Homo sapiens: one gene and its partner. The protein of the gene in region 1 purifies or fractionates together with the protein of each later gene. This does not show direct contact. Each region holds a gene or a part of one and is shown on either strand. Other genes may lie near its edges. The genes, in order: SMO and ST13.

Region 1 (3,821 bases):
AGCGATTCGAGTTCCGCCAGTCAGCCACGAATGTGGCCTAGAAGAGAGAAGTGGGCCATTCTGTGAGGTTAGGGTTATTCTGCTGACACAGACACCCTTAACTGAGCCCCAGACCCTTCTGATCATGACCCTTCCCTGGGGACCCCCACCAAGACCTCTTTGCCCCCCTTCCCTCTGGCTCTCTTCCCACGTTCCAGGCTGAGGGCCCCCCGGGCCTGCCCTCCCGCGGCTGACCAGGGTGAAGAGCGTGCAGAGGCCCGTGACGGCCCCGAAGGCCGCGATGTAGCTGTGCATGTCCTGGTGCTCAGCCTCTGTGAAGAGCGGGTTCTGGCACTGGATGCCGCAGCCCTCCACGTCCTCGTACCAGCTCTTGGGGTTGTCTGTCCGAACCAAGGGCACTTCGCACTGGCCTGAACTGTTGAACTTGATGTTCTGCACCTCATTCTGGCACCAGGGATGGGAAAAGACGGTGTCAAGGCAGCTCAGGGACGAGCCTCTTGTTTAGGGAAAGGTATCTAGGTAGCATGGCAGGGTGGCTGGAGATACACTTCCAGGACCTGAATCCCAGGGCTGGCTTGGCAAATTATTTGGCCTCTCTGTACCTCAGTTTCCCCACTTCTTTCTTTCTTTTTTTCTTTCTTTTTTTAGACAGTCTCGCTCTGTCGCCCAGGCTGGAGTGCAGTGGCGTGATCTCAGCTCACTGCAACCTCTGCCTCCCGGGCAATTCTCCTGCCTCAGACTCCCGAGTAGCTGGGACTACAGGCGCCCACCACCACACCCGGCTAAATTTTGTATTTTAGACGGGGTTTCACCAGGTTGGCCAGGCTGGTCTTGAACTCCTGACCTCATGATCCACCCACCTCGGCCTCCCAAAGTGCTGGGATTACAGGCGTGAGCCACTGCGCCCGGCCAGTTTCCCCATTTCTAAGATGGTAGTACTTACCTTATGGTATGGTTTAAGGGTTAAATGAATAAACATATATTATATATATAGAAAGAGAGAGACAGAGTCTGGCTCTGTCGCCCAGGCTGCAGTGCAATGGCACAATCTTGGCTCACTGCAACCTCCACCTCCCGGGTTCAAGCGATTCTACTGCCTCAGCCTCCCAAGTAGCTGAGAATACAGGTGCCCACCACCATGTCTGGCTAATTTTTTGTATTTTTAGTAGAGACGGAGTTTCACCATGTTGGTCAGGCTGGTCTTGAACTTCTGACCTCATCAAGTGATCCACCCGCCTCAGCCTTCCAAAGTGGTGGGGATAACAGGCATGAGCCACTGTGTCTGGCCAGCCTATTTATTTATTTATTTATTTTGAGACAGAGTCTCACTCTGTAGCCCAGGCTGGAGTTCAGTGGCACGATCTCAGCTCACTGCAACTTCCACCTCCCGGGTTCAAGCGATTCTCGTGTCTCAGCCTCCCGAGTAGCTGGGACTACAGGCGCACACCATGACATCAGGCTTATGTTTGTATTTTTAGTAGAGACAGGGTTTTGCCACGTTGGCCAGGCTGGTCTGGAACTCCTGACTTCAGGTGATCTGCCCACCTCGACCTCCCAAAGTGCTGGGATTACAGGCATGAGCTTATTATAATGGCATTTGGCATATAGTAAACAGGACTAATTAGTATTATTACCATCATTATTACTGTTATTATTTTCATTGAAGACCTCTCCTGCACCACCCAGAACTAGCTCACGTCCCCTGTCTTGGTGGCTCTAGCTGTTTCACACGCTCGCGCCTTAACTCCCAACATACATGAGAAACTTCCTGATAGGCTCCTGTCATCCGTGATGCCCGTAACACCACAACACCCAACAGCCAGTGCTCAAAACATTTTGCTGAACATGTGATCATTGATAAATAAATAGAGAATCCCTAATAGACGGATCCAGCCAGTGAGCTGCAGTTTGAGTTTGTGTCCTGTTGACCCCATGGCTGTAGGCTCAGGGTCTCCAGGAGACAAAGCTCTGGGCTCCCCTGCTCCCCACTGGACCCTGCCCTATACCCGGTCCTGCCCAACCCAGAGAGCCTGGACCTTGTCTCACAGAGCACTCACCGTGCAGCCTTCAGGGAAGCGGTCAGGAGTGCAGCGCAGGAAGTCAGGCCAGCCCCGCTCCCTCTCCACGATGGCACAGGGGCCTCGGGTGGCCTGGCAGAGGGTACGGCTGGGCAGCTCCACCCGGTCATTCTCACACTTGGGCATGTATACGGCACACAGCAGGGGCTGGATCACTGCCCAGCAGCGGGGGGCATTCCGGAGGCCTGGGGGTGGCAACAGCATTGCAGTGAAGGCCCCTCCTCACTCTGACCCACAGACGCAGCTTCACCCCTGTCCTCCAGGCCTTTGCCACACTGCAGCCCATCACTGGTCAGACCTGGCAGGTACAGTGTTTCTCAACAGTGCATCTGGGCAGGACAGTTCTTTATACCATAGGACTGTCCCATGCATTGCAGACACTAGACTCTGCCAACTCAATGCCAGTAGAACCCAGAAGTGATTGTGACAAACAAAAATGCCCCAGCCCTCTACTCTAGGGACGGTGACTAGAAGGGAGCCTGGAGAGGAACCTCTGGGCTGCTGGGAATGTTTTACTTCTTGATCTGGTACTGGTTACATGGGATGTTGGGAATATTCTATCTCCTGATCTGATACTGGTTACATGAGTGTATTCACCTTGTGGAAACCAAGCTCATGATCTGTGCGCTATTCTGTATGCTTACTATCATTTAAGTTTTAAGAAAATAACTGCCACTTCCAGATGCCCTGCTAGGGAGTGGTAATGCCTCTGGTAGAGCTCCCCGGGGTGGATTTACCTTTTCAGGGGTGCACCCAACTCTCACGGGGCCCATTTGCTAGAGCCAGGAGATGTTTCCCTTTGCCCAGACCCCAGAACCCTTGTTCCTCTTACCAAGCGGAGTGAGAGAGAAGAGATGGGGGCTTAAGAAGAGGTAGTCAGAGGAGCCAGGCACTCCAAAGCCAGAGGAGGAAGCAGGAAGTCAGATGGAGAGGAACAGAAGAGGCTCTGTCCAGTGCGGAGAGGGGAAAAATGTTGTCAGCAAGACAGAAACAGGCGGCAATCTCCCAGCACCCGTCCCCAGCCTAGTCCTCCGCCCTGCCCATCACAGAAGCCCTTCCTGAATCAACCCTGCTTCAGCAATATCTATTTCCCAAGCAAGAAGTTGCATTAGGAGAGAATATGAGGATGTGAGAGCCAACATGGGTGCCGGTCACATTTCCAGGCTGGGGGTGGTAGAGACAGGTAACCACTCTTTTCGGGGGAAGGCAACATAGTAGAGAGGTAAGGGGCATGTGCATGGCAACTGCCCAGCCTGGGTCCAAATCTTGGCTCCACTCTTTCCTGGCTGTATGATCTTGGGCAAAGTACTTTATCTTTAGCCTCAGTTGCCTCATCTGTAAAATGGGGATGATAGATTTACCTCATGGAACTGCTGTGAAAAGTGATATAATGCTTTAAATGCCCTTGGCACAGTACCTGTCATGTAGTAAGCGCTCAGGAAATGTTAACTCTTATGATTATTTGTCTGAGGCCTCTGACTGCTCCCAGCCTTCAGAGTATATTCCAGGGTGCAGAGCAAGTTCCTGCCAGTTAAGAAGCAATGTCCTCAGGCAACAGTTCCCACTTGACTCAATTCAGTCACCAGTTGGCCAGGCGCAGTGGCTCACACCTGTAATCCCAGCACTTTGGGAGGCAAAGGCGGGCAGATCACCTGAGGCTAGGAGTTCAAGACCAGCCTGGCCAACAAGGTGAAACCCCGTCTCTACTAAAAATACAAAAATTAGCCGGTCGTGGTGGTACAT
Region 2 (3,821 bases), on another chromosome or scaffold:
CTCATACCTGTAATCCCAGCACTCTGGAAGGCCAGGAGTTTGAGATTTTGTCTCTACTAAGAATTTTTAAAAATAAAAATAAAAAACTAGCTGGACATGGTGGTGCATGACTATAGTCCCAGCTGGTCAGGAGGCTGAGGTGGGAGGATCACTTGAGCCCAGGGCGTCAAGGGCGCAGTGAGCTATGATTGTACCACTACACTCCAGCCTGGATGGAAGAGTGAGACACTGTCTCAAAAAAACAAAGCACAAGACTTATGGGGAACACGTTAGTAAGTTATTAAAATATTTTAAAAACACCTAAAAATTGGGCAGATAACATTATTTATGGATAGTTTATCTCAATGGTGAGGAGATATATCTTTTCCCGAACTTGATTTAGATTTAACACAATTCTAACAAAGGGGAAAAAAACCAATGGAAGCGGGGAGACTTGATCAACCTATTTCTAAAATTTACTTGGAAAAACAAAAAGCCAAGAACAGCCAAAAGACTAAAAAGTTTTGGGGGTCCTTGTTCTACAAAATAACAAGACTTAGTATCAGACGATGTGGCATTAGTGAACAGAAAAAAAATAGACAAGCAGAACAATAAACTCCTGAAACAGACCCACAATATTCAGAAACAGTGTATTTTAGTTTTGGTGGGACCGGTAGATTAAAGGTGAAAGGTGAGTGTATAAAATGTTCAGAAGAGAAAAAGCAATGCACTACAGCAATTATAACCTCAAAGTAATAAAGCAGAAAATATCTGCATTAAAAGATACTATTTTTGAAACAACATGAAGAAAGATGAGTGAAGATGAGTCACAAACTAGCAGAAAATATATGCAGCACTAGCAACAAATTATTAGCATCCAGAATATTGAAATGAAATACAAAGCAGTAAGAAAAAGATCCAGCAAAAAGTGGAAAAAGTTTAAACAGGAGTTCGCAAATGCCAGTGAACAGCCAATAAACATTTAAATATGCTCAGCCTCATTAGGAATCAGGAAAATGCATTTTTTTTTTTTTTTTTAAATAGAGTTTTGCTCTGTCGCTCAGGCTGGAGTGCAGGGGTGCGATCTCACCTCACTGCAACCTCTGCCTCCTGGGTTCAAGTGATTCTCCTGCCTCAGCCTCCCAAGTAGCTGGGATTACAGGCGTGCACCATCATGCCTGGCTTATTTTTGTATTATTAGTAGAGACGGGGTTTCACCATGTTGGCCAGGCTGGTCTCAAACTCCTGACCTTAGATGATCCACCCACCTCGGCCTCCCAAAGTGCTGGGATTACAGGCGTGAGCCACCCTGTCTGGCCAGGAAAATGCAAATTAAAAGCCACAAAAAGATACCATTTCCCACAATACTTGGCAAAGATGAAATCTGATAATATCAAGTTTTGAGGATAAAAACCAATCTTTTAAAACTGCTATTACTATATTAGAGTGTTTCTCAAATTTTTATCAGACACTAAGGAGCCTTTTTAGACATCTTTTCCTCATTTCCATATCCCCAATTTTAATACCACAGATACACTACATATTAATATTCTATGAGTCTTTGGAGGACCACTAACCATTGTAATATATAGAATTTTTTTTAAGCCCTCCTCCCAAGAACCAATTTTCACTCCCTTGAGGGCCTGTTATGACAAACCATTCTGTAATACAATTTGGCATTAGATATTCCATCAAGAGCAACTCCACTAATAGGTATGTATTTTAAGTGAATTCTGCGTTACAGTGCAAGCAGTCACACCAGATGCAAACTTAAAAAACAGATAAAACAGAAAGTAACAGTATTTATTTTCATTAGTATTTTAAGTAGTAAAATACAATGCTTGCCTAAAACGCCTGAAGTCAGAGAAAGATTTACTATGCGCTTTTCCTGGAAGAATCGTGTCATAAAATCATTGCAACAGCAGGACCTTTCACATTTCTTAGAACAAGCAGGAAATCAAGTCACCGAACTTACCTCCGCATTTTCATCTCCCATTTCTTGAGGAGCATCAGTGTCTGGTTCAATCACACCTTCTTTATCAATTTCTGCCAAAGTCGAGAAAATGACAATAAGACCTGCACCGTACAATATAGTAGCCACTCCCAAGATTATTAAAAACTGACATACTATGACTACTACAATTAATTATTTTAAGTATTGATGCATTTTAAAATATGTTCCCATTAAACATTTCGTTACTTTGGTAAGACTACACTTTACGTTAACTGTCACATCATGTAAGATATTTATTATCAGGTTGTAGTGGGGTTGTTGACATGTGCAGTTTCTAGTATTACACATAAATACACCACTGATTTAGTCATTGTATATAAATACACCATTGTCAACAAACTGATTTAGTTCAAATAATTTTTTTCTACACACTGATGTACTATGTTTTTCAAAAATATGCAGGTAAGCTACAGTGATACTTCAACGTAAATCAAAATATTTTAATATAATTACATTCATTACTTTCCTTTTTTAAAATTAAAATAATTTTGGGGGGGGCACAGGATCTTACTATGTTGTCCAAGAAATCCTCCCACCTCGGCCTCCCAAAGCACTAGGATTCCAAGCATGAGCCACTGCACCTGGTCCCTAATTATTTTCATTTTTAAAAGTAGCATGGACAAGTTTTAATTTTAAAATAAAGGCTTACTACTGATGCAGAATCAAGTACCAAGGCTAGATTTAAAAATAAATTTAGTTTCCATATGTACAGTAGTGACCAAAGCTAGTACTTACAACCAAAACAGTAAAGAATGAAAAGCAGTATCTTGCTTTTCAAATTGTCATTTAACAGTTGTCAGTTAAATGACAACTGTAATTTGTTGCAAGTGGAAAACGAGTTTTATATATATATACACACACACACGCACGTATCATTTAAAAAGAACACATTTGCAAATAGTTAATTTGATAAGAAGTTTCCTTAGTCAAAAAAAAAAAATTTAAAATCACCCACCTAAAATCAGAATTACTGTCCAGCAACAACAAAACTTGACGCATGACTGACAAACTATATATATACATATATGTATATGGTGTACAATGCGATGTTTTAACATACAGGCATATCGTTTTTTGAGACGGAGTTTCGCTTTTGTTGCCGAGGTTGGAGTGCAGTGGCGCAATCTTGGCTCACCGTAACCTCTGCCTCCCAGGTTCAAGCAATTGTCCTGCGTCAGTCTCCCAGGTAGCTGGGATTACAGGCATGTGTCACCACACCTGGCTAATTTTGTATTTTTAGTAGAGATGGGGTTTCTCCATGTTAGTCAGGCTGGTCTCCAACTCCCGACCTCAGGTGGTCCACCCGCCTCAGCCTCCCAAAGTGCTGGGATTAAAGGTGTGAGTCACCGTGCCTGACCTCAGGCATACCTCATTTTATTGTGTTTCACTTTACTGCACCTCACATAATGAAATGATTCTCACCCATCATATTAATAACTATCCATCTCACATATTTATTTGTTTTTGGTGAGAACACTGAAGATCCAGTCTCTTAACAAATTTCAAGTATACAGTATTATAGTCATGCTGTATACTGGATCTCTGGAATTTATTCAGATTATAGCTCAAAGTTTATGCCCTTTAACACGGTAAAAAAATTTTAATCCATTTTTTAACAGCAACTAAGCTTGTCTATCAAAGTTTGATTTGTATACAAAAAAGAAAACACTTTTAGGTGGAGAGTTGGTTAAAAAATTTATTGTAGTTTTAGAAACTGGTAGAAAGTAAGACTAAAGAGGCATTTTATAAAAAGTAAAAGATCTTCAATTTAGCACTCAAACAACTGCCAGTAGAATGTAAGACCTCTAATGATATCAAAGATAATTTG

The links.
Region 2: the proteins of SMO (region 1) and ST13 fractionate together in Homo sapiens (co-fractionation; one large-scale study listed by BioGRID). This does not show direct contact.

The regions. Positions count from the first base shown.
Region 1 is NC_000007.14:129,201,826-129,205,646, reverse strand, and holds part of SMO (protein smoothened precursor), read right to left. Parts: intron 3,025-3,821; exon of another isoform or gene 2,911-3,024; intron 2,264-2,910; coding exon 2,058-2,263; intron 445-2,057; coding exon 235-444; intron 38-234; coding exon 1-37. UniProt on the Homo sapiens protein: G protein-coupled receptor which associates with the patched protein (PTCH) to transduce hedgehog protein signaling. Binding of sonic hedgehog (SHH) to its receptor patched prevents inhibition of smoothened (SMO) by patched.
Region 2 is NC_000022.11:40,842,885-40,846,705, forward strand, and holds part of ST13 (hsc70-interacting protein), read right to left. Parts: intron 2,026-3,821; coding exon 1,955-2,025; intron 1-1,954. UniProt on the Homo sapiens protein: One HIP oligomer binds the ATPase domains of at least two HSC70 molecules dependent on activation of the HSC70 ATPase by HSP40. Stabilizes the ADP state of HSC70 that has a high affinity for substrate protein.